Linked DNA regions of Homo sapiens: region 1 is linked to region 2. The links come from fine-mapping of genetic effects on gene expression. A gene starts in region 2. The other region holds a variant in brackets. All regions are shown on one strand. Distances are between the middles of the regions.

The links.
Region 1: its variant is fine-mapped to the expression of KRTCAP3 in whole blood (INTERVAL, PIP 0.96).

The regions. Positions count from the first base shown.
Region 1 is chr2:27,388,162-27,404,444 of GRCh38, forward strand. All of the region lies in intron 1 of PPM1G (protein phosphatase, Mg2+/Mn2+ dependent 1G), which reads right to left. It also overlaps the pseudogene FTH1P3. Among named protein-coding and RNA genes, the nearest start is that of PPM1G, 13 kb to the right of the region's middle. RefSeq lists an enhancer at 7,143-7,644. The variant A/G (reference allele first, on the strand shown) is at 9,799.
Region 2 is chr2:27,435,521-27,448,349 of GRCh38, forward strand. KRTCAP3 (keratinocyte associated protein 3) reads left to right here and starts at 6,861. Exons shown (of 7, transcript NM_173853.4): 1 at 6,861-6,920; 2 at 7,059-7,243; 3 at 7,322-7,381; 4 at 7,554-7,760; 5 at 7,878-8,012; 6 at 8,429-8,541; 7 at 8,666-8,777. The coding sequence starts at 6,893. The coding sequence ends at 8,536. It overlaps NRBP1 (nuclear receptor binding protein 1), which reads left to right. Exons shown (of 18, transcript NM_013392.4): 8 at 1,233-1,316; 9 at 1,527-1,585; 10 at 1,742-1,840; 11 at 4,246-4,378; 12 at 4,883-4,988; 13 at 5,132-5,182; 14 at 5,285-5,420; 15 at 5,607-5,660; 16 at 5,747-5,810; 17 at 6,047-6,102; 18 at 6,188-6,739. The coding sequence ends at 6,292. It overlaps IFT172 (intraflagellar transport 172), which reads right to left. Exons shown (of 48, transcript NM_015662.3): 41 at 12,292-12,402; 42 at 11,995-12,114; 43 at 10,740-10,835; 44 at 10,409-10,468; 45 at 10,225-10,323; 46 at 9,776-9,929; 47 at 9,494-9,585; 48 at 8,857-9,001. The coding sequence ends at 8,912. RefSeq lists an enhancer at 6,996-7,538.

The DNA of each region.
Region 1 (16,283 bases), 46 kb before region 2:
GCACTTTGGGAGGCTAAGGCCGGCAGATCATGAAGTCAAGAGATCAATACCATCCTGGCCAACATGGTGAAACCCCGTCTCTACTAAAAATACAAAAATTAGCCAGGCGTGGTGGTGTGCGCCCGTAGTCCCAGCTACTCGGAAGGGTGAGGCAGGAGAATCACTTGAACCCCGGAGGTGGAAGTTGCAGTGAGCCAAGATCACACCACTGCGCTCCAGCCTGGGTGACAGAGTCAGACTCCGTCTCTAAATAAATAAATAAATAAAATAAAAAACAGTTGTAACCATCTAAATTTCCAGGAATAGATTACAAATGGTACGTAACTCCAGTGGAAATGTAGCTGTTAAAAGCAAATATATGTTAATTTGGAAATGAGTTCACAATATCTTAAGTGGTTAAAAGCAAAAAGTTAAAAAAGTATCTACATGTGAGGACGGCCACAGTGGCTCACTCCTGTAATCCCAGCACTTTGGGAGGCCCAGGCAGGCGGATCATGAGGTCAGGAGATCGAGACCATCCTGGCTAACATGGTGAAACCCCGTCTCTACTAAAAATACAAAAAATTAGCTGGAGGTGATGGTGGGCGCCTGTAGTCCCAGCTACTTGGGAGGCTGAGGCAGGAGAATGGCGTGAACCCAGGAGGCAGAGCCTGCAGTGAGCCGAGATTGCGCCACTGCACTCCAGCCAGGGCGACAGAGCAAGACTCCGTCTCAAAAAAAAAAAAAAAAAATTATCTACATGTATATGTGAGTCTGGAAGATCACATAGCAAACAACCACAGAGGGTGAGATTTGGGTAATAATTTCTACTTTTCGACATTCATTTTTAAATTTTTGTACAATAAACCACATTGTTCCATTCTGAATAAGGACAACAAACACACCTAAGAACTGGCCTCAAGTTGCCATTCTACCATATACTGCATGATCTCTGGTCAGCTACCTTATGGTGTGCCTCAATTTTATCCTCTGTGATGTGGAATTACAATATCCACCACATCCACATCATCACAGAACTGTTGTAATGATGCAAAACACATAAAAGCCCTTTGTAAACTGGAATTTGCTACATAAAAATATATATATATATACACACACACATACACATATATGTATATTCTGCTCTGAAATTTAGCACCCATTTCACATTTTTCTTTTTTGTTCTTTTTCTCAAAGAGGACCACCCACAATAAAGATTCGTCTTACACCTTGAGGTCTCAGTCCTGAGAACTATCGCACAATTACCCTCTCCTTCACTTCTTGGTGAGGCTTGGGATCTATATTATGATTTGGAACTGTTTCACCTTCCCTAAACACTTTAATTTGCCCCCTTTACATGTCTGCTCATAACCTTTACCCACACCTTTGCTTCTCTCTATCCCTTACTGAGACAGAGCCAAGTATTTCAACATGGTCTCTTAGAAATCTAGAAAAACTCACCCAACCTTGTATAACCCCACCAACTGATTTATGCCTGAATCAGAACTACTAAGTTTGCTAGTCATAAAATGTTATGAGATTGGCTAGGTGCGATGGCTCACACCTGTAATCCCAGCGCTCTGGGAAGGTAGGCAGGAGGACTGATTGAGATCAGGAGTTGGAGACCAGCCTAGGCAACATAGCAAGACCCCGCCTCTACAAAAAAATTTTAAAGTTAGCCAGGCATAGCAGCATGCACCTGCAGTCAGTCCTAACTACTCGGAACACTGAGGCAAGAGGACCACCTGAGCCCAGGAGGTGGAGGCTGCAGAAAGCTATGATGCACCACTGCACTCCAGCCTGGGTGACAGAGGGAGACCCCATCTCTAAAACAAAACAAAGTTATAGGATCACATTGACTGTGGTAATTACTTCATTTCAGCATCTTGTTTTCTTTTTTTTTTGAGATGGAGTCTCCCAGGCTGGAGTAGAGTGGCGCGATCTAGGCTCACCATATCCTCCACTTTCCAGGTTCAAGCAATTCTCCTGCCTCAGTCTCCTGAGTGGCTGAAATTACAGTGGGCACCTGCCACCACGCCCAGCCAATTTTTGTATTTTCAGTAGAGACGGGGCTTCACCATGTTGCCCAGGCTCTTCTCAAACTCCTGAGCTCAAGTGATCTGCCCAGCTCGGCCTCCCAAAACGCTGGGATTACAGGCGTGAGCCATTGCAACTGGCCAAACACAGAAATTATCCTCTCTTCCTAGATTAACATTTTTTCTTAAACTCCTGATCTCAAATCCTTCTCCTTCAAGGTCTTACTACACAGAGAATGTAATAACCTTAACAGCAATCCAAATAGCCGTTTTGGCAATGGCTCATGCATGTAATCTCAACATTTTGGGAGGTCAAGGCAGGAGGACTGCTTGAGGCCAGGAGTTCAAGCCTGGGCAACATAGTGAGACCTCATCTCAACAACAACAACAACATCCGTAAACAGCCATTCTGCAGACTTCATTTCCCCTAGCCATTATGTCAGATTAAACAGTACAAACCATGTCAGTTTTTTTTTTATTTTTCAATGTTTATTTTAGAATCACAGAATACATGTGTAAGTTTGTTAGAAAGGTATACTGTGTGATGCTGAGGTTTGGGGTATGACTGAACCCGTTTCCCAGGTGCTGGGTATAGTATCAAATAGGTAGTTTTTCAGCTGTTCCTCTGCCACACAACCCCCACCCCCACCCTGCCGCACCACCACCTCTAGTAGACCCATGTCTATTGTTGCCATCTTTACATCCATGTGTACTTGATGTTCAGCTCCCACTCTCACTGCGTGAGAACACGCAGTATTTGGTTTTCTGTTTCTGTGTTAGTTTGCTTAGGATAATGCCCTCCAGCTACATTCATGTTGTTGCAAAGACATTATTTCATTATTTTTAATGGGTGCATAGTATTCCATGATGGCTATGTACCATATTTTCTTTTCTTTTCTAGTCCGCCACTGATGGGCACATGAGTTGATTCAATGTTTTTGCTATTGTGAATGGTGCCACAATGAACATACAGGTACATATGTTCTTTTGGCAGAATGATTTATTTTCCTTTGGCCGTATATCCAGCCATCAGATTGCTGGGTCTAATGGTAGTTCCACTCTTAGTTCTCTGAGAAATCTCCAAACTGACTGTGCCTACGCTAAATTAATTTACACCTTCACCAACAGTGTACAAGTGTCTGCTTTCCTCTGCAGCCTCACCAACGTTTCTCATTTTTTGACATTTTAACAAAAGCTGTTCTGACTGGTGTGAGATGGTATCTCTTTGTGGTTCTAATTTGCATTTGTCTGATGATTAGAAATGGGCGTTTTTTCATGTTTGTGGGCCACATGTACGTCTTTTGAGAAGTATCTGTTCATGTCCTTTGCCCACTTTTTAAGGGGGTTATTTGCTTTTTGCTTGTTAGGTTCCTTATAGATTTTGGATATTAGACTTTTGTTGGATGTATACTTTGTGAATATTTTCTCCCATTCTATAGGTTGTTTACCCCCTTGATAGTTTCTCTTGCTGCATGTCACTTTTCTTGAAAGATCTCTTGGATTCTGTGTAGTTCTATACCTCTGACTGCCTGTTTCTACAGGATGTTCTTTTTTTCTTTCTTTTTTTTTTTTTTGAGACAGAGTCTAGCTCTGTTGCCAGGGTGGAGTGCAGTGGCGCGATCTCGGCTCATCACAACCTCTGCCTCTCGGGTTCAAGCAATTCTCCTGCCTCAGCCTCCTGAGTAGCTGGGATAACAGGCACGCGCCGCCACGCCCAGCTAATTTTTGTATTTTTAGTAGAGACGGGGTTTCACCATGTTGGCCAGGATGGTCTCGATCTCCTGGACCTCGTGATCTGCCCACCTTGGCCTCCCAAAGTGCTGGGATTACGGGTGTGAGCCACTGCACCCGGCCAGGATGTTCTTTCTCTCTATACCTCAAACTTAACACATGTAATCAGGAAATCAGCAGTCTGCAAAAAAAAAAAAATCAAGAGCTTCCCCTACAGGTCTTATTTCTGTAAATGGAATCTTAACTCTCCCAGACAACACTTAATACCAGAGTCATGCTTAACTTCCTGGCTGTCTTCCACCATCCATCACTGAGTCCTGCATGCAGTCCTTCATCATGTTGTTGTTCCTGGATTACTTTGTTTTGTTGGTTTGTTTTGTTTTTTTTTTTTTTTTTTTTTTTTGAGAGAGAGAATGTCTCCCTGTCACCCAGGCTGGAGTACAGTGGCATGATCTCAGCTTACTACAACCTCCGCAGCCCAGGTTCAAGTGATTCTCATGCCTCAGCCTCCCAAGTAGCCGGGATTACAGGTGTGTGCCACCATGACTGGCTAGTTTTTATATTTTTAGTAGACACGGGGTTTCACCATGTTGCCCAGGCTGGTCTCAAACTCCCGACCTCAGGTGATCCTCCCGCCTCAGCCTCCCAAAGTGCTGAGATTTAGGCATGAGCCACTACGCCAGCCCACAGTACATTTTTTTTTTGGGGGGGGGGAGGGTACCAAATTTATTTATTTGAAGGAATGGTACAAATCAAAGAACTTAAGTGGGTGTCTTGGAACAACTTATAGAAAAGGTAAAGGAAACCCCAACATACATGCGCTGCCTTGGTGACAAGGTAAGTCACCCTATGGCTATGGGGAAATTAGCCTGAGGCTTAGCTTTCATTATCACTGTCTCCCAGGGTGTGCTTGTCAAAGAGGTATTCTGCCACGCCAGATTCGGGCGCTCCCATCTCGTGCATGTTGGTCACGTGGTCACCCAATTCTTTGATGGCCTTCACTTGTTCATTCAGGTAATGTGTCTCAATGAAGTCACACAAATGGGGGTCATTTTTGTCAGTGGCCAGTTTGTGCAGTTCCAGTAGTGACTGATTCACATTTTTTTCCAAATGTAATGCAAAATGCACAATTTTTTCCAAATGTAATCCATCGCATTCAGCCCGCTCTCCCATCGCATTCTCCCCGCACAGTCTGGTTTCTTGATATCCTGAAGGAAGATTCGGCCACCTCGTTGGTTCTACAGCTTCATCAATTTCTCAGCATGTTCCCTCTCCTCATGAGATTGGTGAAGAAAGTATTTGGCAAAGTTCTTCAAAGCCACATCATCGCTGTCAAAGTAGTAAGCCACGCACAGGTAAATGGAGGAGGCGTAGAGCTCCAGGTTGATCTGGCGGTTGATGGCGGCCTCTGAGTCTTGGTGGTAGTTCTGGCGCACCTGCGAGGTAGACGCGGTCGTCATGCCGGCGACTAAGGAGAGGCGGCGGCAGCGGCAGTGGTGGCTACGCGGCGCTGGAGCTGCGGCGGGGGCCTTGGGGCAGTCCGAGGGCATGGTGAAGAGGTGACGGAGGGCTGGCTATGGGCGGCCGGCCGGGGTGCAGGACGAGCGCCGGGTTCCGTCCAAGCACTGTTGAAGCAGGAAACCCCGACCACTCTCGGCGAAGAACGTCTCAACTTTTAATTATCATATTTTTTTCTGAGAAAGAGTCTCACTCTGTCGCCAGGCTGGAGTGCAGTGGCGCAATCTTGGCTCCCCGCAACCTCCATCTCCCGGGTTCAAGCAATTCTCCTGCCTCAGCCTCCCGAGTAGCTGGGAGTACAGGTGCGTGCCACCACACCCAGCTAATTTTTTATTTTTATTTATTTATTTTTTTAGAGACAGAGTCTCACTCTGTCGTCCAGGCTGGACTGAAGCGGCGCAATCTCGGCTCACTTCAAGCTCCGCCTTCCGGGTTCACGCCATTCTCCCGTCTCAAAACTCCTGAGTACCTGGGACTACAGGTGCCTGCCAAGACGCTCGGCTGATTTTTGTATTTTTAGCAGAGACGGGGTTTCACCGTGTTAGCCAGGATGGTCTCAATCTCCTGACCTCGTGATCCACCTGCCTCGGCCTCCCAAAGTGCTGGGATTACAGGCATGAGCCACCGCGCCCGGCCTAATTTTTTATTTTTAGCAGAGATGGGGTTTCACCATATTGGTCAGGCTGGTCTCGAACTCCTGACCTCAGGTGATCCGCCTGCCTCGGCCTCCCAAAGTGCTGGGATTACAGGTGTGAGCCACCGCACCCACCAACAGTAAACTTTAGTAATAAAAATTAGTAAACTTTTCCTTTCTGGAGTAGTAATTTTTAAAAAATAATCACTATTTCATCTTACCATATGCTTTCATCTTCAGGAAACACACTATAATGGCTTTAAGCTGTTTCTTAGTTCATAAGTGATAGCTCAGAAGCATCTGAATTATTTTCCCTGAATTTCACTACCTGGCCTAGTGCCTACATAGGCTAAATCATTTCTGATCATTCACATGCTCAAGATCTTCTTGTGGCTGGGCACGGTGACCCCCCTGTAATCCCACCACTTTGGGAGGCCGAGGCAGGCGGATCTCTAGGTCAAGAGATTGAGACCATCCTGGCCAACATGGTGAAACCCCATCTCTACTAAAAATACAAAAAAATTAGCCAGGAGTGGTGGCACGCGCCTGTAGTCCCAGCTACTTGGGAGGCTAAGGCAGAAGAATCACTTGAACCCGGGAGGCGGACCAGGAGGCGGAGGTTGCAGTGAGCCGAGATCGTGCCACTGCACTCCCGCCTGGTGACAGAGTGAGACTCTGTCTTAAAAAAAAAAAAAAAAAAAAAAAGATATTCTTGCAACTGGAATGATATTTCATTTTCCAGGAGTTTGACACAATTTAGGAGGTTTTTCCTGCACACAATGGCCACCCATTTCCAATTAAACATTCATAAAAACACCACAACCACCCACCTCACTACCTCATACCCATTAGAATAGGAACTATTAAAAATAATAATAATAAAAATAAAACCAGGCACAGTGGCTCACGCCTGTAATCCCAACACTTTGGGAGGCCAAGGCGGGTGGATCACTTGGGGTCAGGAGTTTGAGATCAGCCTGACCAACATGGTGAAACCCCGTTTCTACTAAAAATACAAAAAATTAGCTGGGCGTGGTGGTGCATGCCTGTAATCCCAGCTACTTGGGAGGCTGAGACAGGAGAATCACTACTTGAATCTGGGAGGCAGAGGTTACAATGAGCCAAGACCGTGCCATTGCACTCCTGCCTGGGTGACAGAGTGAGACTCTGTCTCAAAAAAAAAAAAAAAAAGAAAGAAAGAAAGAAAGAAAAACTTAATTCTAGCACCTTGGGAGGCTGAGGGGAGCAGATCACTTGAGGTCAGGAGTTCGGGACCAGCCTGGCCAACATGGCAAAACCCCATGTCTACTAAAAATACAAAAATAACTGGGTGTGGTGGTACACCTGTAATCCCAGCTTCTCAGGAGGCTGGGGCATGAGAATCACTTGAACCTGGGAGGCGGAGGTTGCAGTGAGCTGAGATCATGCCGCTGCACTCCAGCCTGGGCAATAGAGTGAGACTCTGTCTCAAAAACACAAAACAAAACAAACAAACAAAACTGGTTGGGCATGTTGGCTCATGTCTCTAATCTCATTATTTTGGGAGGCTGAGGTGGGAGGATCACTTGTGCTCAGAAGTTCAAGACCAGCCTGGGTAACACTGTGAGACTCTGTCTCTACGAAAAAATTTTTTAAATTAGCCACAAGTGGTGGTGCACACCTGCAGTCCCACCTATGTGGAGGCTGAGGTGGCAGGACTGCTTGAGCCCAGAGGTTGAGGCTGCAGTGAGCTATCACATTGCACCACTGCACTCCAGCATGAGCAAGAATAAGACCGTCTCAAAAAAAAAAAAAAAGAAAAAGGAAAAAAGAAACCATTAAAAAAAAACAGATAATAACAACTGCTAGCAAGGATGTGGAGAAACTGAAATTCTTGTGTACTGTTGGTGGAAATGTAAATGATACAGGTGTTGTGAAAAACAACATGGAGGCTGGGCACAGTGGCTCACGCCTGTAATCCCAGCACTTTGGGAGGCCAAGGCAGGTGGATAATTTGAGGTCAGGAGTTCGAGACCAGCCTGGCCAACATGGTGAAACCCAGTCTCTACCTAAAAATACAAAAATTAGCCGGGTGTTGTGGCGAGCACCTGTAATCCCAGCTACGTGGGAGGCCGAGGCAGGACAATCACTTGAACCTGGGAGGTGGAGGTTGCAGTGAGCAGAGATGGTGCCACTGCACTCCAGCCTGGGCGACAGAGCAGGACTCCGTCTCAAAAAAATTTTTTTTAAATTAGGCAGTCACTAAAAGACAAATACCATATGATTCCACTTACAGTATGAAGTATCTAAACTAATCAAATTCATAGAGACTGAAAATAGAATGCTGTTTGCCATGAGCTGGGGGAAAGAGAATGGGGACTCATTTAATGGGTATGGAGTTTCAGTTCTGTAGGATGAAGAGTTCTGGAAACTGGGTACACAACAATGTGAATGTATTAAATACTACTCAACTGTACATTAAAAAAATTTTTAAGGCCGGGCGTGGTGGCTCATGCCTGTAATCCCAGCACTTTGGGAGGCCGAGGCGGGCGGATCACTTGAGGTGAGGAGTTAGAGACCAGCCTGGTCAACATGGAGAAACCCCGTCTCTACTAAAAATACAAAAATTAACTGGGCATGGTGGCGCATGCCTGTAATCCCAGCTACTCAGGAGGCTGAGGCAGGAGAATCTCTTGAGCCCAGGTGGCAGAGGTTGCAGTGAGCCAAGACTGCAATCATTGCACTCCAGCATAGGTGACAGAGCAAGACTCCGTCTCCAACAAAAAAAAAAAAAGAAAAGAAATGACTAAGATGGTAATTTTTATGTTATGAAAACTTTGTTTCCCTTGAAACAGAGTTTTGCTCTTGTTGCCCAGGCTGGAGTACAATGGCACGATCTAGGCTCACTGCAACCTCTGCCTCCGTGGTTCAAGTGATTCTCCCTCCTCAGCCTTCCAATTAGCTGAGATTACATGCATGCACCATCATGCCCAGCTAATTTTGTATTTTTAGTAGAGATGGGGTTTCTCCACGTTGCTCAGGCTGGTCTCAAACTCCCGACCTCAGGTGATTCACCCGTCTTGGCCCCCCAAAGTGCTGGGATTACAGGCGTGAGCCACCATGCCCAGCCACAATGAAAATTTTTAAAGAAAAAAAAAGCCAAAAACTTCCCACAAAGAAGAGCCCAGGCTCAGATGCCTTTATTTGTGAATTCTACCAAACATTTACAGAAAAATTAATACCAATGATTCACAAACTCTCCCATCACATAGAAAAGAAGACAACACTTCCCAATTCATTCTATGAGGCCAGCATTACCCTGATTCTAAAACCAGACAAAGACATCACAAGAAACTACAGACCAATATCTCTTATGAATATAGACACAAAAATCCTCAACAAAATAGTAGCAAACTAAATCCAGCACCATATAAAAGGATAATACACATTGATCAAATAAGACTTATACACCAAAAAAATGCAAGGTTGGTTTAACATTCAAAAAAATCACTTAATGCAATATAGCGTATCGGTAGACTAAAGAACAAAACCCTATGATCATCACAATAGGTATTATAAAGGCACTTGACAAAATTCAGTGCTCATTAATGATAAAAAGACTCAATGCCAGTCTGGGCAACATAGTAATAAGACCCTGTCTCTATAAAAAATTTTAAAAAATTAGCCCAGTATGGTGGTGCATGCATGTAATCCCAGCTACTAAGAAGGCTGAGGCAGGCGGATCTCTTGAACCTAGGAGTTCAAGGCTGCAGTGAGCTATGATTGAGCCACTGTGCTACAGCCTGAGGGACAGAGCAAGACTGTCTCTAAAAAAGTAATATAAAATAGACTCAACAACCTAGGAATAAAAGGGAACTTCCTAAACCTGATAGAGTACATCTATGAAAAACTCAGTCAGCC[A/G]GGCACGGTGGCTCATGCCTGTAATACTCCCCCAGTTGATCTACAGATTCTGCATAACCCCTATAGAAACCCAGGTGCCTTTTGTGCAGAAATTGACAAATTAATCCTAAAATTTAGATGAAAAACAAATTTTAAAAACATTTCAAAACGTACTAAAAAGCTACAGTAACCAAGATAGTGTATTACTGGCATAGGGACATGTAGACCAATGAAATGGACTTGAGAGTTCAGAAATAAAACCCTCACATTTACGGTCAATTTATCTCTGACAATGATGCCAAGATAATTCAATGGGGGAAAAGAACAGTGGTTTAAACAAATAGTGCTGGGACAACTTGATATCCACACACAAAAGAATGAAGTTGGATCACTCCCTCATACCATTCACAAAAATTCACTCAAAATGGATCACAGAAACAGCTAAAACTATAAAACTCTTAGAAGAAAACCTAAGAGAAAATTCTCGTGACTTTGGGTTAGGCAAAGCTTCTTAACAAAAACAAACAAACAAAATAGACAAATTGGACTTTATCAAAAGTAAAAACTTTTGTTTCAAAAGACACCATCAAGAAAGCAAAAAGAGGCTGAGTGTGGTGGCTCACGTCTGTAATCCTAGCACTTTGGGAGGCCCAGGCGGACGGATCACGAGGTCAAGAGATCGAGACTATCCTGGCCAACATGGTGAAACCCCGTCTCTACTAAAAATACAAAAATTAGCTGCGCATGGTGGCATGTGCCTATAGTCCTAGCTACTCGGGAGGCTGAGGCAGGAGAATGGCTTGAACCCGGGAGGCAGAGGTTGCAGTGAGCCGAGATCATGCCACTGCACTCCAGCCTGGCAACAGAGCGAGACTCCGTCTCAAAAAAAAAAAGAAAAAAAAAGAAAGAAAGCCAGCAAAAAGAATCAGGGTGTAGTGGCTCATGACTGTAATCCCAGCACTTTGGGAGGCTGAGGCAGGCAGATCACCTGAGGTCAGTAGTTCAAGACCAGCCTGGCCAACATGGTGAAACCCGGTCTCTACTAAAAATAAAAAATTAGCTGGGAGTGGTGGCACACACCTGGGTCCCAGCTACTCGGGAGGCTGAAGCAGGATAGCTTGAACTCAGGAGGCAGAGGTTGCAGTGAACCAAGATCGCGCCACTCCATTCCAGCCTGGGTGGTCAGAGCAAGACTGTCCCCCGACCAAAACAACAACAACAACAACAACAACAAAAACAAAACAAAAAAAGAAAGCAAAAGTCCACAAAAATTGGAGAAAAGATTTGCAAATCATATATCTAACAAACTTGTATCCAAAACACATAAAGAACTCTTACACATCAAAAGACAAAAAGACAATCCAATTAAAAATGGACAAAGACTTTGAACAGACATTTCTCCAAAGAAGATACACAAATGTCCAATAAGCACATAAAAGATGTTCAAACATAAGGCCTGGCATGGTGGCTCTAGCCTGTAATCCAGCACTTTGGGAGGCCCAGGGAGGCGGATCCTTTGAGGTCAGGAGTTCGACACCAGCCTGAACAACATGGTAATGCCCTGTCTCTACTAGAAATACAAAAAATTAGCTGGGTGTGGTGGCATGTGCCTGTAATCCCAGCTGCTAGGGAGGCTGAGGCAGGAGAATCGCTTGAATCTGGACAGAGTGAGATTCTGTCTCAAACAAAAAGTTCAAACATCATTAGCCATTTAGCCATCAGAGAAATACAAATCAAAACTACAATGAGATACCATCTCACACCCACCATTAGTTATTATAAAAAAGGTGGATAAGTGTAGTGAACATGTGAAGGAACTGGCATCCTCATATATTGCTGGCAGGAATGTACGACGGTACAGCAACTTTGGAAAACAGTTTAGCAGTTTCTCAAAATGTTAAACACGTAGTTACCATATGACCCAGCACTTCCACTCTTTGGTATATAACCAAGAGATATGAGGACATATTTCCACACAAAAATTTGTACATAGTATCACTATTTATAATAGCAAAAAAAAAAAAAAAAAGTGGAAATCCAAAATGTCTATCAACTAATGAATGGATAAACAAAATGTGACAAATCCATACCATGGAATATTATTCAACCATAAAAAAGAACGAAACACTGATTGATTCATGACACAACATTGATGACCCTTAAAAATATTACGCTTGGCCGGGCGTGGTGGTTCATGCCTGTAATCCCAGCACTTTGGGAGGCCGAGGCAGGCGGATTGCCTGAGCTCAGGAGTTCGAGACCGCCCTGGGCAACACAGCGAAATCTCGTCTCTACTAAAATACACACAAAAAATTTAGCCGGGTGTGATGGTGGGTACCTGTAGTCCCAGCTACTCGGGAGGCTGAGGCAGGAGAATCGCTTTAACCCAGAAGGTGGAGGTTGCAGTGAGCTGAGATCGCATCACTGCACTCCAGCCTGGGCGACAGAGGGAGACCCTGTCCCCAAAAATAAAAAATTAAAATTAAAAAATTATGCTTAGGCACAACTATGATACATCAACTGAAAAATATCAGGCTGGGTGTGGTGACTCATGCCTGTAATTCCAGCACTTTGGGAGGCTGAGGTGAAAAGATTCCTTGAGGCCAGGGGTTCAAGGCCAGCCTGGACAACACAGTAAGACCCTGTCTCCATGAAAATAAATGAATAAACAACAATAATTAAAACTGACCTCCTGGAGATAAGAAAAAGAGTTAACTAGGAGATAAGAGAAAATTCAAGAATTGTTAAGTCATTAATTTGAGATGGAGTTCTGGGTCTTTTGCTTCCCTTCCATCAACTAAGTGAGGAAGGTTCCAACAGAAACAAATGGGAGTGCCTAAAAGAAAACTAGCATCTCTTTCCTGGTTACACAGGCAACAGACTTGGTGATCTGCCTGAGCTCTGTCTATCTGAACAGAAGGAGAGAATTTTAAAAAGTGCCCACTGGAGCCTGAACCATCCTGCTGGTATCCATCCAAAGGAGTCCAGCAGTATGAGGTCAAGGATACACAGCAGGTGGTAAAAGCCACAGAAAAGTCTAAAAACCAAAAGTGGAGATCAAGTCCCTCTGGGCCAGGCCTGGCTATTGCTGCAAACACAGAGATGGTGAGTGATAACTGGATATGAGACTGGAGTTTTAAAGAGATTTCTGATTCTATTAAGCTCTGTAAAATAAAACCTGCAAGGCACTGATCTAGAAAGAAGCAAAAGAACCTTGGGTCAGCAAAATACTTATTCTTAAATCTACTACAACAATGTATGTGTGATTTTTTTAAAAAGAAACTTACAGGCAAAGCTGAGGGGTAGAGGGAATACTTGGGGTGGAGAGTAATTTACTCTTCCAGGGGCCAACAAGCTTTAAAGTCAATTTCAAAAATACACATGCTTAGTAAAAGCATCCAGATATAAAAGGTAGTGTATTTAGAATTCCATTTATAAAATGTTCAGAATAGGCAAATTCATAGAGGTCATGTAAATTAGTGGATGCCAGGGGTTAGTGGACGGAAGATAGGGAGTGACTGGTAAAGAGTACAGGGTTTCTTTTTGGGGTTCTAAAACTGATTGTGGTGACAGTTGTACAACTCTGTTTGAATACACTACAAAACAGGCAGGCACGGTGGCTCATGCCTGTAATCCCAGCACTTTGGGAGGCTGAGGCAGGCAGATCACTTGAGGCCAGGAGTTCGAGACCAGCCTGGGCAACATGGTGAAACCCTGTTTCTACTGAAAATATAAAAATTAGCTGGGTGTGGTGGCGTGAGCCTGTAGTTCCAGCTACTCAGGATGCTGAGGCAAGAGAATTCGCTTGAACCTGGGAGGTGGAGGTTGCAGTGAGCTGAGGCTGCGTCACTGCACTCCAGCCTGGGTAACAGAGCAAGACCCTGTCTCGAAAAAAGAAAAAAAGAAGAAAAAAAAGAAAATATACTAAAAGCCACTGAATTATACCCTTAAAATGAATGAATTATACCCTTAAACCCACTGAATTATACTCTTAAAGTGAGTTCATATACTGTATGGTATATGAACCATATGTGGTATGAACCATACAGTATATGAACTCTATCTCAATAAAGCTGATTAAAAAGGAACCTGTAAGAAATAAATAAAATAAAAAGGAACCTGTATACACATTTTCAAATACTAAATATGATTAAAAGGTGTTGTTTTTCTGCTAGCATTGGGTCAAAAAGGAAAAAAAAGTTGATATACTTCATCTCTGAACTAGATCTAGAAAGAAACAAAAACAACTACACTGAAATCATACTCTGTCTACAAAATGTCATTAAACATCTTAAGCTCAGTTCTAAAGATTTGTTTCCAGATAATACAATGTCAAGAACTACTGATCAGACCTGTATAAATTTCTATGTTCAAATTCAAGCCCTTACCTCTCAAAATTCAATTCTAAGACTAATAACCCAATAGAAGATTAGAGGTTAGGGAAACAGTAGTAACAACTGCTAAGGAATCAGACAATAGAACTTTGTGTAAAATATCCTTGAAATCTTGAGGAATACGTTCTGATTGTATTTTCCAGTTGCTTGAGAACTTATAAGGCAATGGTATAAAATATAAAATAATTTCTAGACCAGGCATGGTGGCTCACACCTGTAATCCCAGCACTTTGGGAGGCCGATGTGGGTGGATCACGAGGTCAGGAATCGAGACCATCCTGGCTAACATGGTGAAACCCCGCCTCTACTAAAAACACACACAAAAAATTAGCCAGGCGTGGTGGCGGGCGCCTGTAGTCCAGCTACGCGGGAGGCTGAGGCAGGAGAATGGCATGAACCCGGGAGGCGGAGCTTGCAGTAGCTGAGACCGCGCAACTGCACTCCAGCCTGGGTGACAGTGTAAGACTCCATCTCAATAAATAAATAAATAAATAAATAAATAAATAAATAAATAAATAAATAAAATAAACATAAATAAAATTCCTCAGCCTGGGCAACACTGCAAGGCCCTATCTCTACAAAAAAAAACTTAAAAAAAAAAAATTAGCCAGTCATGGTGGCATGTGCCTATATTAGGCTGAGGCTGGAAGACCCCTTGAGCCCAGAAGGCTATGCAGTGAACTATGATCGAGCCACTGTAAAGGCAGATAAGTGTAGTGAGGATGTGAAGGAACCGGCACAAGAAATCCCATACTCCTTACCACTCAAGCATGGGCAAGAGTGAGATCCTGTCTCAAAATAAATACATAAATAATTTAAAAAATAAAAAGGCCGGGCACAGTGGCTCATGCCTGTAATTCCAGCACTTTGGGAGGCTGAGGCGGGCAGATCACTTGAGGCCAGAAGTTCAAGACCAGACTCGCCAGCATGGGAAAACCCCTTCTCTACTAAAAATACAAAAAAGTTAGCTGGGCATGGTGGCGAGTGCCTGTAATCCCAGCTACTTGGGAGGCTGGGGTAGGCAAATTGCTAGAACCCAGGAGGCAGAAGCTGCAGTGAGCCGAGATGGCACCATTGCACTCCAGCCTGGGCAACAAGAGCAAAACTCCAACTTAAAAAAATAAAAAGAAAATAGTTTCTCCATGCTCATGGGCATACATGTGATATAATTCTATACTAGCTTTGAACTGTGAATGGGTACTGCATGCTAATCAAATGCAAATAATGCGTTTTTATAAAAGTTGCTAACCACATTCTAGACAAAGAAATTCTGGCCAGGCGCAGTAGCTCACGTCTGTAATCCCAGCACTTTGGGAGGCGGAGGCGGGCAGATCACCTGAGGTCAGGAGTTCAAGACCTGCCTGACCAACACAGAGAAACCCCATCTCTACTAAAAATACAAAAAATAAGCCAAGTGTCGTGGCACATGCCTGTAATCCCAGCTACTCAGGAGGCTGAGGCCGGAGAATCACTTAAACAGAAAGGCCAGTGAGCCGAGATCACACCACTGCACTCTAGACTGGGTGACAGAGACTCTGTCTAAAAAAAAAAAAGAGAGAGAGAGAGAAATTCTGACCTGGTTTAGTAAGTAAAAAGCGCTTTAAGCTATTGGCTATTGATATGAGATGCTAATCTGAAGATAAGAAAATAAATGTTTTTCAACCTTCAATGCCCTAAGGTAGAACCCCATAGCATACTTGTGATATTTCTTTTTATATTTTTTCCATTAATTTAATGACTGAAACAAATATGCAGGTATTTTAAGAATTTTCTGCTCAATACTATCTTTATAGTCAATTCTAGATGACCCCTTGACCACTAATAAGCCAGCTTCTACACAGCAATAAATAGCCAGCCTCCTCAAAATTATACTATAGATATTGACACTGCCTTTAATAAAAGGAAAATATGATTTATAGCACAAAAAATTCCTGGCCGGGCACGGTAGCTCACATCTGTAATCCCAGCACTTTGGGAGGCCGAGGCAGGTGGATCACAACGTCAGGAGTCTTGAGACCAGCCTGGCCAACATAGTGAAATCCTGTCTCCACTAAAAATACAAAAAAAAATTAGCTGGCCTGGTGGCAGACTCCTGTAATCCCAGCTATTTGG
Region 2 (12,829 bases):
AGACCCTGCCAGAGGAGGTTCCAGGCTGTTCCTGCTGTGAGTGCTTTCGTTTGCTGTGTATTGTATGCAGTGTACAACATTTCTGTGTGCTGTGTCTGTGTGGTATTTGTGTGTCCATTTGTCTGGGGCTTGGCTGCTCCATCGCTCACAACTTTTCTCTGTTTTCCTCCCTCCCGCTTACGGGCTGCTCTGTTCCCAACAGTCTTTCATAGGATTTTTGCTAATGGTGAGAGCTCCCTCTGCCCCACTTGGGGCTCTGTTTGTGCTCCCTCTGCTCCCTTGGCGGCTGCCCAGTGCATGCAGTCGTGGGAGCAAACCCTCTTCCCCTATCTTCCCTGCCTAATTATGCCTGCTTAGCTTCTGCCCTGCCAGCCCTCCGCCTGCTTGCCCCTTCATAACCTGCTTGTTTCCTGTGGATTCTGCCTGGCTGGCCACTTACCTCCTGGATTCATGTTCTCCCTCATCATCAGGCTAGTTCCCAGATCATACTGTGCTCCCAGATTCTCTGTGACTTGTAGTCATTGTTTATGATCTGAGTGAGTCCAAATTGGGCCTGGTCCTGGTTCCTCGTTCAGCTCTGTGGCAGACAGTGTTGAGGAATAAGGGGGTAGAACAGGAGTCTAAAATGTTTTGGTGGATTAAAAGTGGAACAGATTCAAGGGTATTAGCTCAATTCTGAGCTGTTTTGAGTTTCACTCAGCAAAGGTGGGTAAGAAGGAGGCTACCTCCTGAGCTGTATGTTAATACTTCTTATCCTTATTTATCCAAGTTCCTGAGGTCTCCAATTGTCCCAGATTAGGAAGGGCTGCCTGTGTTTTTATGTTATTTGCAGGGTGGATGAAAAAACTAAAACCAAATATTTTCATGTGAGCAGGGATTAGAGGTACCTGGGATTTAGGGAAGGTGAACGCAGTACAAGTGAAAATTTTTCCTTAAACTTCATTGCTTCTAGACCAGCCTGAAGCCCCTGTGTATCTGTTAATTTAGTCTGGTGCTTTTGTTGCTCCTGATTTAGGGACATTAGATGAGAAGCAGTAGGCCTAAGAAAGGGGAGGTAGGTGGCATCCATGTGTGGTCTGTAGTTCAGGACAGGAAAGGGAATATGTTTGTGCCTGTTGAGGGTCATCAGAAAGGAGACTTCAGGAGAGAATTTGGCTTTTGGGGCCTCTCTCTGGAGTGAGACTATTCTTCATTGATGATGGTCAGATTGTGGGTGTCTCCCCTACTCCCAGTGGCTCCTGACACTATCAACAATCATGTGAAGACTTGTCGAGAAGAGCAGAAGAATCTACACTTCTTTGCACCAGAGTATGGAGGTGAGCCTTCCTGCTTTCTCTGCCCTGTCCTCATCCCCCTGCTTTTGCACCTTATAACTTGAGGTACAGAGGCAATATAACTGAAACTTCTAGGCCTTCTCTACCAGCATACAAAATATTTTTCTTTTCTTTTTTTTTTTTCCTAAGGCATTCCTGCCAACCCTAGCCCCCAATCCTCTGATTAACCAAAGCCTTCTCTGTTTTCCCTAGAAGTCACTAATGTGACAACAGCAGTGGACATCTACTCCTTTGGCATGTGTGCACTGGAGGTGAGGGGACTGGAGGGGAGGGGGGAAAGGGGTCAGATGAGAAGATGGAATTGGGAATGGAGGGAAGACAAGTAAGGCGCTGGCTTGGAGGGAGTGATTGTGGGAGCACTGAAGTTCTTAGGTGTCTACTTTTTTTTTTATTCTTCCTCACTGAAGATGGCAGTGCTGGAGATTCAGGGCAATGGAGAGTCCTCATATGTGCCACAGGAAGCCATCAGCAGTGCCATCCAGCTTCTAGAAGACCCATTACAGAGGGTAAGGATCTTCAGGATCACTCCCTCCTCAACTGACCTTCAAATGTCTTCTGGTTTTTCTTCCTTTGTACCCACTGGGTATATGCTCCTAAGAGCTAGGGAACATAACAGAAAGGACACGAAAAATCTATAAACATTTTCTTAGGAGGTGCCTACCATGTTTTTGCATAGAAACACACAGGTAAGGGGGTTAAGATGGATGATGCTGGGGTTAAAAGTTGTGTGTTGGAAGCCGGGCATGGTGGCTCACGCCTGTAATCCCAGCACTTTGGGAGGCCGAGGCGGGCGGATCACGAGGTCAGGGGATCGAGACCATCCTGGCTAACATGGTGAAACCCTGTCTCTACTAAAAATACAAAAAAAATTAGCCAGGCTTGGTGGCGGGAGCCTGTAGTCCCAGCTACTCAGGAGGCTGAGGCAGGAGAATGGCATGAACCCGGGAGGCAAAGCTTGCAGTGAGCTGAGATCGCGCCACTGCACTCCAGCCTGGGCGACACAGGTAGACTCCGTCTCAGAAAAAAAGAAAAAAAAAAAAGTTGTGTGTTGGCTGGGTGCAGTGGCTCACACCTGTAATCCCAGCACTTTGAGAGGCTGAGGCGGGTGGATCACTTGAGGTCAGGAGTTTGAGACCAGCCTGGCCAACATGGTGAAACCCTGTCTCTACTAAAAATACAAAAATTAGCTGGGCATGGTGGTGTGTGCCTGTAGTCTCACCTACTCGGGAGGCTGAGGCAAGCTTGAACCCGGGAGGCGGAGATTGCAGTGAGCTGAGATTGGGCCACTGCACTCCAGCTGGGGCAAGAGAGCGAGACTGTCTCAAAAAAAAAAAAAAAGTATGTTAATTTGAATGTGTCTACATGGAGGTAAATTAATTTGATGGTTACTTCAGGCCATTGCTGTATACTCTCAGACAGCCATTTTTATATTTTTAAGCACATCAGTCAATTTAAATTAAACCAGTTGTTTGGGATTTTATATTTATACAGTTTTAGTTAGGGACGGTGGCCTGAAATAATGAGCTAAGATTTAAAAGACATAAGGTTATGAATCAGTTGATAGACTATAGTAAGCAGAGCCTGGGCAGGAAGGTCCAAACAAGAACAGTTTGTAACTCATTAGATAAGTATAGTAGGGAACAGGAGAGAAAAGAAGACTAGTGGGAAGTCAGGAGGATAGTGTGGAGTAAGTTTCTACTTCAACATTGAGGTGGAGTATTCAAGTGAAAGATTAGGTATGTGACCTTGTTAGCCTTCAAGGTTAAAAGCAGGAAAGCAGGTTAATTGTCATGGGACATGCAGGAGGTAGAAAAGGAGGCGGTGGTGGAACATGGTGGCTCATACTTTTAATCCCAGCACTTTTGGAGGCTGAGGTGGGAGGATCACTTGAGCTCAGGAGTTCGAGACTAGCCTGGGCAACGTGGTAAAACCCTATCTCTATGAAAAAATAAAAATTATCTGGGTATGGTGGCACATGCCTGTGGTCCCAGCTACTCTGGAAGCTGAAGTGGGAGGATTGCTTGAGCCCAGGAGGTTGAGGCAGCAGTGAGCTGTGATTGTGCCACTGTACTCCAGCCTGGTTGGCACAGCAAGACCCTGTCTCAGAAAAAAGAAAGAAAGAAAATAAGGCAGAATCGTTAGAGGAATCCTGGGAAATTCGGTGAATTCAGTGATTGTGGGCAAAGGAAATTGTGATACTAGGCTTGTGAAATAAAAAAATGGTGAATATTGATCACATTGGGTAAGTTTGGGAAGAGAGAAGCTAAATTTGGCAAGATTTAGAAAAGAAGATAGGCAGTGAGTTGACTAATAAAGCAGAGAGGTAGAAACTAAGGAAAAAGAAAGTGTGGGGCCGGGCGCGGTGTCTCATGCCTGTAATACCGGCACTTTGGGAGGCTGAGGCGGGTGGATCACGAGGTCAGGAGATTGAGACCATCCTGGCTAACATGGTGAAACCGTCTCTACTGAAAATACAAAAAATTAGCCGGGCATGGTGGTGGGCACCTGTAGTCCCAGCTACTCGGGAGGCTGAGGCAGGAGAATGGCGTGAACCCGGTAGGCAGAGGTTGCAGTGAGCTGAGATTGCGCCACTGCACTCCAGCCTGGGCGACAGAGCGAGACTCCGTCTCAAAAAAAAAAAAAAAAAAAATTGTGAACATTAAAAAAGAAAGCTTGTGGTTGGAGAGCAGAAAAATAATTAAAACCAGAAAGGCAGTGGATGGTATCTTTCATATAATATCTTACAGTTTTTGAAGCCCTTTCAGGTGCATTTTTCAATATATTGTTTTCTCAGCAAGTGCTGAGCACCTACTATGTACAAAGCCTTGTGCTAAGTAGAATGAGAGCTATAAAGATGAACACACTGGGGGCTTGCCAGATGCCTGCTCCAGTTCCTTGTTTCCTTTTCTAGGAGTTCATTCAAAAGTGCCTGCAGTCTGAGCCTGCTCGCAGACCAACAGCCAGAGAACTTCTGTTCCACCCAGCATTGTTTGAAGTGCCCTCGCTCAAACTCCTTGCGGCCCACTGCATTGTGGGACACCAACGTGAGTCGTCTTGGCCCTATGGGGAATAGTCTTCCAATCTGGAGCCCTGTAACTATCACTGGCATGCTTGTTTTCCTCTTTATTTCCAAAGGGATTCTTTTTTTTTTTTTTTTTTTTTTTTTTTTTTTTTTTTGAGACAGAGTCTCACTCTCTCTCAGGCTGGAGTGCAATGGCTTGATCTCAGCTCATTGCAACCTCCAGCTCCCAGGCTCAAGCGATTCTTGTGCCTTAGCCTCCCGAAGAGCTGGGATTACAGGCATGTGCCACCATGCCTGGGTAATTTTTGTACTTTTAGTAGAGATGGGGTTTCGCCATGTTGGCCAGGCTGGTCTTGAACTGGCGTCAAGTGATCTGTCCGCCTCGGCTTCCCAAAGTGCTGGGATTACAGGCATGAGCCACTGTGCCAGGCCTCCAAAGGGATTCTTTACCCCTTTGCCTGCATGCCTTCTTTGACATTTAATCTGACTATCCCTTCATAATATCCCACTCCATCATGCCCTCCAGACATGATCCCAGAGAACGCTCTAGAGGAGATCACCAAAAACATGGATACTAGTGCCGTACTGGCTGAAATCCCTGCAGGACCAGGAAGAGAACCAGTTCAGACTTTGTGAGTAACTGAGAGGGTCTGAAAGGGGCAGATTGGTCACGACCACTCTTGAGGCTCTGTAAACTGTCCATTCTCTGGGAATGCTTGAATTTGCTATTTTGCTTGTTTCTTTCCTTCCATCTCCTTTCTCTTTTCTCGTCCAGGTACTCTCAGTCACCAGCTCTGGAATTAGATAAATTCCTTGAAGATGTCAGGTGAGAGCAGAGTGAGAAGCAGGCTTTCTTGAGGAAGCAGGCGGGGTTGGGTATCCTAAGGCGTTCACAGAGCCCATGTGACCTGTCTTCATCTCCCTCCAGGAATGGGATCTATCCTCTGACAGCCTTTGGGCTGCCTCGGCCCCAGCAGCCACAGCAGGAGGAGGTGACATCACCTGTCGTGCCCCCCTCTGTCAAGACTCCGACACCTGAACCAGCTGAGGTGGAGACTCGCAAGGTGGGGGCTGTGTGGGTGTGGATTGTCTCCATGGTTGTGGTGGAAGGGAGAGAGGACATCTCAAATAAGGCTCTATCCTTTAGAGAAAATGCTCCCTAGCAGCCATGCCCTATGGGCTCGAAAGACGTCTAGGTATTGGGTTTTTTATGGACAGGTCTCTAGAGTGACCCTCTCTTCCCTCCCTAGGTGGTGCTGATGCAGTGCAACATTGAGTCGGTGGAGGAGGGAGTCAAACACCACGTAAGGCTCAGGGCTAGGGTTGCGCAGGGCTAGTAGCCAGAGGGTAGGGAAGAAAAGTCTCATTTTCTGACTGTCCTATTCTCCAGCTGACACTTCTGCTGAAGTTGGAGGACAAACTGAACCGGCACCTGAGCTGTGACCTGATGCCAAGTGAGTCTCTCCTTTCCCTCAGAGGATGGAGAGTCTATGAGCCTTATCTTTTAGGGACATATTCAGGGGTGGGGGAGGTGACAAGGCAGTAACACATTGACTCACATAGAATGACTATCTTAGACCCTAAAGCAGTGGGTGGATCTGACTGACAGTTTAGCCCTAGTGGGGCTGTCTGAAGGGCCCCAGGTCCCTCAGTCCCGTACTGTACTCACCCCCTCCTGTTTCTTTGTCAGATGAGAATATCCCCGAGTTGGCGGCTGAGCTGGTGCAGCTGGGCTTCATTAGTGAGGTGAGGTTTCTGCCTTCATCTGCCCTGGCTGCCCCCATGCCTTCTCTTCTCTCAGCCCCCATCTTACTGAGCTCTTCTCCCCCAGGCTGACCAGAGCCGGTTGACTTCTCTGCTAGAAGAGACCTTGAACAAGTTCAATTTTGCCAGGAACAGTACCCTCAACTCAGCCGCTGTCACCGTCTCCTCTTAGAGCTCACTCGGGCCAGGCCCTGATCTGCGCTGTGGCTGTCCCTGGACGTGCTGCAGCCCTCCTGTCCCTTCCCCCCAGTCAGTATTACCCTGTGAAGCCCCTTCCCTCCTTTATTATTCAGGAGGGCTGGGGGGGCTCCCTGGTTCTGAGCATCATCCTTTCCCCTCCCCTCTCTTCCTCCCCTCTGCACTTTGTTTACTTGTTTTGCACAGACGTGGGCCTGGGCCTTCTCAGCAGCCGCCTTCTAGTTGGGGGCTAGTCGCTGATCTGCCGGCTCCCGCCCAGCCTGTGTGGAAAGGAGGCCCACGGGCACTAGGGGAGCCGAATTCTACAATCCCGCTGGGGCGGCCGGGGCGGGAGAGAAAGGTGGTGCTGCAGTGGTGGCCCTGGGGGGCCATTCGATTCGCCTCAGTTGCTGCTGTAATAAAAGTCTACTTTTTGCTAAAAGCGTCGTGTGTTCGCGCCTTTCCCGCCAGGGGGAGCGGGCCCGGGGCGGAGGCGGGGCCCAGGTGGGAGGGGGACCCGGGACGGAGGCGGGGCCCAGGTTGGGGCGGGGCCGGGCCCAGGTACAGCGGCCCTGCGGCTGGCGCGGCGGACGGGATGAGGCGCTGCAGTCTCTGCGCTTTCGGTAACTTCCGGGCCCTGGCGTCTCGTCTCCTTACCCTGGGGCTACCCTTGCCCCGTCCTACTGCCCGCGGTTAACCCGCCGCGAGCCGCCTCTCCCCTCCCCGCCCGACTCAACCCTGCCCTCCCCCGTGCTTTGCAGACGCCGCCCGGGGGCCCAGGCGGCTGATGCGTGTGGGCCTCGCGCTGATCTTGGTGGGCCACGTGAACCTGCTGCTGGGGGCCGTGCTGCATGGCACCGTCCTGCGGCACGTGGCCAATCCCCGCGGCGCTGTCACGCCGGAGTACACCGTAGCCAATGTCATCTCTGTCGGCTCGGGGCTGCTGGTGAGCGCGGCAGGCGACCCGGGCGGGGGCCGGGCTCCCGGAGAGCCCAGCAGGCCAAAGGCTTTGTGTCTTCCACAGAGCGTTTCCGTGGGACTTGTGGCCCTCCTGGCGTCCAGGAACCTTCTTCGCCCTCCACTGGTGAGAGGGACTTCCCTGGAGCTTTTAACGAGTAGGCTTGAGTCAGGGAAATGGGGGCTGACTGAGCTTGGTCTTTCAATAGATTGGAGGAGCCTCAGAGAAACTGGGTGTCTAGTCACTGGGAGAGTTAGCCAGGCCCAGGCTGCTCACCCTGATCTCCTGTCCCTGCCAGCACTGGGTCCTGCTGGCACTAGCTCTGGTGAACCTGCTCTTGTCCGTTGCCTGCTCCCTGGGCCTCCTTCTTGCTGTGTCACTCACTGTGGCCAACGGTGGCCGCCGCCTTATTGCTGACTGCCACCCAGGACTGCTGGATCCTCTGGTACCACTGGATGAGGGGCCGGGACATACTGACTGCCCCTTTGACCCCACAAGAATCTATGTGAGCACATTCTCTTCCTTCTTGTGGTCTACAAAGCCTTGGTCCTGCCCTTTTAATTTCCCCTATTTGCTGCACTTGCCCTACTCCCTCCTACTCCCCATCCTTCTTGCTTTTCAGGATACAGCCTTGGCTCTCTGGATCCCTTCTTTGCTCATGTCTGCAGGGGAGGCTGCTCTATCTGGTTACTGCTGTGTGGCTGCACTCACTCTACGTGGAGTTGGGCCCTGCAGGAAGGACGGACTTCAGGGGCAGGTAAGGAAGGCAAACAGGAAGGGTTCATTCCACAGAGACTGGCTGTGTTGAAAAGATGCTGACCGGCCGGGTGCGGAGGCTCACACCTGTAATCCCAGCACTTTGGGAGGCTGAGGCAGGCGGATCACTTGAGGTCAGGAGTTTGAGACCAGCTTGGACAACATGGTGAAACCTCGTCTCTACTAAAAATACAAAAAATTAGGTGGGGTGGTGGGCGCCTGTAATCCCAGCTACTTGGAAGGCTGAGGCAGGAGAATCGCTTGAACCCGGAAGGCGGAGGTTGCAGTGAACCGAGATCACGCCACTGCACTCCAGCCTGGGCAACAGAGTGAGGCTCCGTCACAAAAAACAAAACAAAAAAAAGATGCTGACCTATCATTCAGGGCGAGGGTGTCTAACTCTATCTTCTTCTGCAGCTAGAGGAAATGACAGAGCTTGAATCTCCTAAATGTAAAAGGCAGGAAAATGAGCAGCTACTGGATCAAAATCAAGAAATCCGGGCATCACAGAGAAGTTGGGTTTAGGACAGGTAATGGGCCTTGAAGGTGGTGGCCCGGGTAAGAGCGGGGACAAGGAAGTGCTCTTAGAACTGGGTCTAGGTCTTGCCATGCTGCTTTCCCCTCTGACCTGGGTTGGTTCTCCCCTCTGTCCAGCAGGTGCTGTTCCGAGACTCAGTCCTAAAGGGTTTTTTTTCCCACTAAGCAAGGGGCCCTGACCTCGGGATGAGATAACAAATTGTAATAAAGTAACTTCTCTTTTCTTCTACTTGATTATGATTCCTTTTGGGGAAAAGGCACTGTGTGGTGTTGGGAATGACTTTGATCAAAGAATACAGTGGTCTCAATTATTTATAAAACTTTAATGAGGGAGAGGCCCTAACTCTTCCTCAGCTCTACCAACTACTGAAAGGAAAAGCTGGTGCTGGGGAGCCCTCCACACCACTGACTGATGAATTTCAGCACGTCCTGGCACACTGGGCTGTGGGAGGTCTGTGAGCAAATGGAAGAACATGAGAGGAACTTGTTAATGCTGGAAATACAAAATCAGCTCCATCGCAGGCTTCAGGGTCTGCATCTGCCTTCCTGTAATCCCACCCATCTTTCTAGTGTGTATGTGGGTTTTTTGTTTGTTTTGAGACAAAGTCTTGCTTTGTCGCCCAGGCTGGAGTGCAGTGGCACAATCTCAGCTCACTGCAACCTCTGCCTCTCGGGTTTAAGCGATTCTCCTGCCTCAGCCTCCTGAGTAGCTGGGATTACAGGTGCACGCCACCAGACCCGGCTAACTTTTGTATTTTTAGTAGAGACGAGGTTTTAACCATGTTGGCCAGGCTGGTCTCAAACTCCTGACCTCAGGTGATCCGCCCACCTTGGCCTCCCAAAGTGCTGGGATTAAAGGTATGAGCCACTGCACCCAGACTTGTTTTTTTTTCTTTTTTTAGTGCTGCCCTCTCTGCCTTCATTCTCCAAGTCCTCCTCTCTAACCTTGATGGCCATAAGGAATTTATTCCAGTTGTCCTTGTTAGCAGCCTTCCCTGGCCGCTTAAATTCAATTTTGTTCCTCAGAATGGGGTATCCTGTGGAGGAAGAAAAAATGATGAACTGGGGTTTGAGAGAGATTGAGGAGGGAAAAATGAGGAGCAGCCTGGGGGGTAGAAAGCACAGTCCTGTCTTTTGTACCCTTTACTGAATCCTAGTAAAATTAAGTTTATTGATCCTGCTGCTTTCTACCCACCACAGGATCTGGGGTGCTGTAGGCTTCTATACCTGTAATAAGGCAGGGCAGGGCTCGAACACCAGTGCTCGCTGCCACTAGGGAGGCCTCGTAGGCGCCACGCTCATCCCGAGGCAGAACCTGCTCCAGCCGCTGGTCCATGGAGACTGTAAGCACCCAGTCTCGAACCTCTTCTCTCTCAGCCTCCTGGAAAGGACAAGAAGGGAGTGGTAGCTTCACACAGGGCAGGGCAGGACAAGTTGGGGTGGATGGGTGAGGAGGGGGTTTGCTAAGCCCTCATCCTGTATACCAGCTTTTAGCCACGAATCCTCCTTGGATTGGGGGATGCAGTCACAGCCTTTTCTTTCTATTTTGCTTCTACTTTCACTGAAAAAACAGTGAGGGCTGAGGTCCTTCCAAAGATGGCAGCACAAAGATATTCTCCCTCCTCAAGGCACTCACACTGGTGAGGCCTTCCGGTTTTCCAACCCTGTGCCCTTACCGGTACATGCTGCTTAGCTGGGAGTGGCACCTCAAAGGGAATGTCTGTATCCTGAAAATCAGAGTGGTCAAGGCCATCTAGAGTCCCTTCCTCGATTGCCTGCAGTAGAGTGGGCAACCATGAACTAGGCACAGCTCGCGACTGGCAAAAACCTCCACCCTCGGGGCACAGCTTCCCTACTCACATCGGTCAGGTCCAAAAAGCGATTGAGGAAGATGAATGCCATGTTATCCCAGCCAACTGCCTGCAGCAAAGAAGAGTTGCAAATGGGAGTGAACAAGCTGGGTTTGAATGCTACTTCTCTGGGATCCAGATGCAAATGGGAGTGAGCAAGCTGGGCTTGAATGCTATTTCTCTGGGATCCAGGGAGAAAAATCCAGGAAGACATAGGAGGACTACATCCTCCGTAACATCAGCCCTACACTCAGCTTTCCTCTACCAGAGCAGAAGGGATATTCTATTTTCCAACCTTTAACTTCCTCCTATCTGCCCCACCCTTCCTTGTCCCAGCTCACCTTGGCAGCAATGCCTGCTTCATAGAAGGCTTTGTCTACAGGTAGTAGCTGGGTGTGACGCAAGAGTGAAACAGAAAGCCTGGCAGCCACGGTTTCCTGGGATTAAAGTCAAAGCATTATGAATATGGCACTAAAGTGACTGAGCTACCAGACCAATGATCCTGTAAGGCAGCCACAGAACTAAAAAACAACAATTATTATTAAACTGCTCTGGATTCTCAAGCTGTTCTGGGTCTTAGTTTTTTTTTTCTTTTTCTCTGAACAAGACACCTGGGCCTAGGTTCAATTCTTTCGCCCAGGCTGGAGTGCAGTGGTGCCATCTCAGCTCACTGCAACCTCTGCCTCCCGGATTCAAGTAATTCTCGTGCCTCAGCCTCCTGAGTAGCTAGGACTACAAGCGCACATTACCATGCCTGGCTAATTTTTTTTTTTTTTTTTTTTTTTTTTTTTTGAGACGGAGTCTCGCTCTGTCGCCCAGGCCAGACTGCGGACTGCAGTGGCGCAATCTCGGCTCACTGCAAGCTCCGCTTCCCGGGTTCACGCCATTCTCCTGCCTCAGCCTCCCGAGTAGCTGGGACTACAGGCGCCCGCCACCGTGCCTGGCTAATTTTTTGTATTTTTAGTAGAGACGGGGTTTCACCTTGTTAGCCAGGATGGTCTCGATCTCCTGACCTCATGATCCACCCGCCTCGGCCTCCCAAAGTGCTGGGATTACAGGCGTGAGCCACCGCGCCCGGCCAACCTGGCTAATTTTTATGTTTTTAGTAGAGATGGGGTTTCACCACGTTGGCCAGGCTGGTCTCGAACTCCTGGCCTCAAGTGATCCACCCGCCTCGGCCTCCCAAAGTGCTGGGATTACAGGGGTGAGCCACCACACCCACCCACCTAGATTGTTTCTAAGGTTCTTTCCACTTCTAGAATTCTATCATCCAAGTACATGAAATAAATATACAGTGAACAGTCAAAAATAAGCCCAGAATATGTGTACATTATAAGAGGTGAATAAAGAAATCATGGGATTTGGATGTTTAAACATAATGAGGCTGAGGCTGTGTGGGCACAGAGCCCTAAAAAGGTCGGAAGAAGAAAACCTCAGCAAGGGCTAAAGATTTGTTTAGACAGAAGAGAAGCTGAAAGACAGGTGGGGAGATTCAAGAGCCCAAGCTGAAGAATCCAGAACGTGAATCAATTCAGCTTTATACATTTGCAGATGAGCCCTTCTGACTGAGTGTTCCTTCGACCCCCTACATCTCACCAGCTGTTTGACACTCTGGGCTGCAGAGCGCGTGGCATAGTAATGAGCGATCAGCAGCATCGTCTTGAACTCCTCATGGGCTGGAGAGTTTGCCTCACTGGACTTCACCAGGTTTTCACACTAGAGGAGGGAGACAGCACAGCCTGGCTCAGGGGTCAGAGGAGTGCCAGGGCCATAGAGTGGTCTCTGATAGCCACCTGGCAGAGGAAGGTAAAATACATCTGAGAATAAAGGTTTATGTGCATCAAAGAAGAGATGAGGACAAGGACAGACGGAGCAGCCCTTTCGCTTCCTCACCAGGTTGAAGAGGACATCTCGAAGATCAGCCCAGCTATGATAGGCCTCGGCACAGTTGGTTCCAGGAGAGCTCACCATGTCAGTGAAGATCCTTTTGTAGATATTGAAGTTCTAGAGGTAGAGGGAAGAAGGGGATCTGAGAAGGGCATAGCTAGAAGAGAAAGTCACTGGAAGTGGGGCCAAAGGGAGGAGAAACAGGCTTTGTGTGTAGAAATGGGTATGTGTGTGTGTGCAAGGGCTGGGGGACAGTGGCAGATTTTTATTTTTATTTATTTTTATTTTTTTAATTTTATTTATTTATTTTTGAGACAGAGTCTTGCTCTGTTGCCCAAGGCTGGAGTGCAGTAGCATGATCTCGGCTCACTGCAAGCTCTGCCTCCCAGGTTCATGCCATTCTCCTGCCTCAGCCTCCCGAGTAGCTGGGACTATAGGTGCCTGCCACCACGCCCAGCTAACTTTTTATATTTTTAGTAGAGACGGGGTTTCACCGTGTTAGCCACAATGGTCTCGATCTCCTGACCTCGTAATCCGCCTGCCT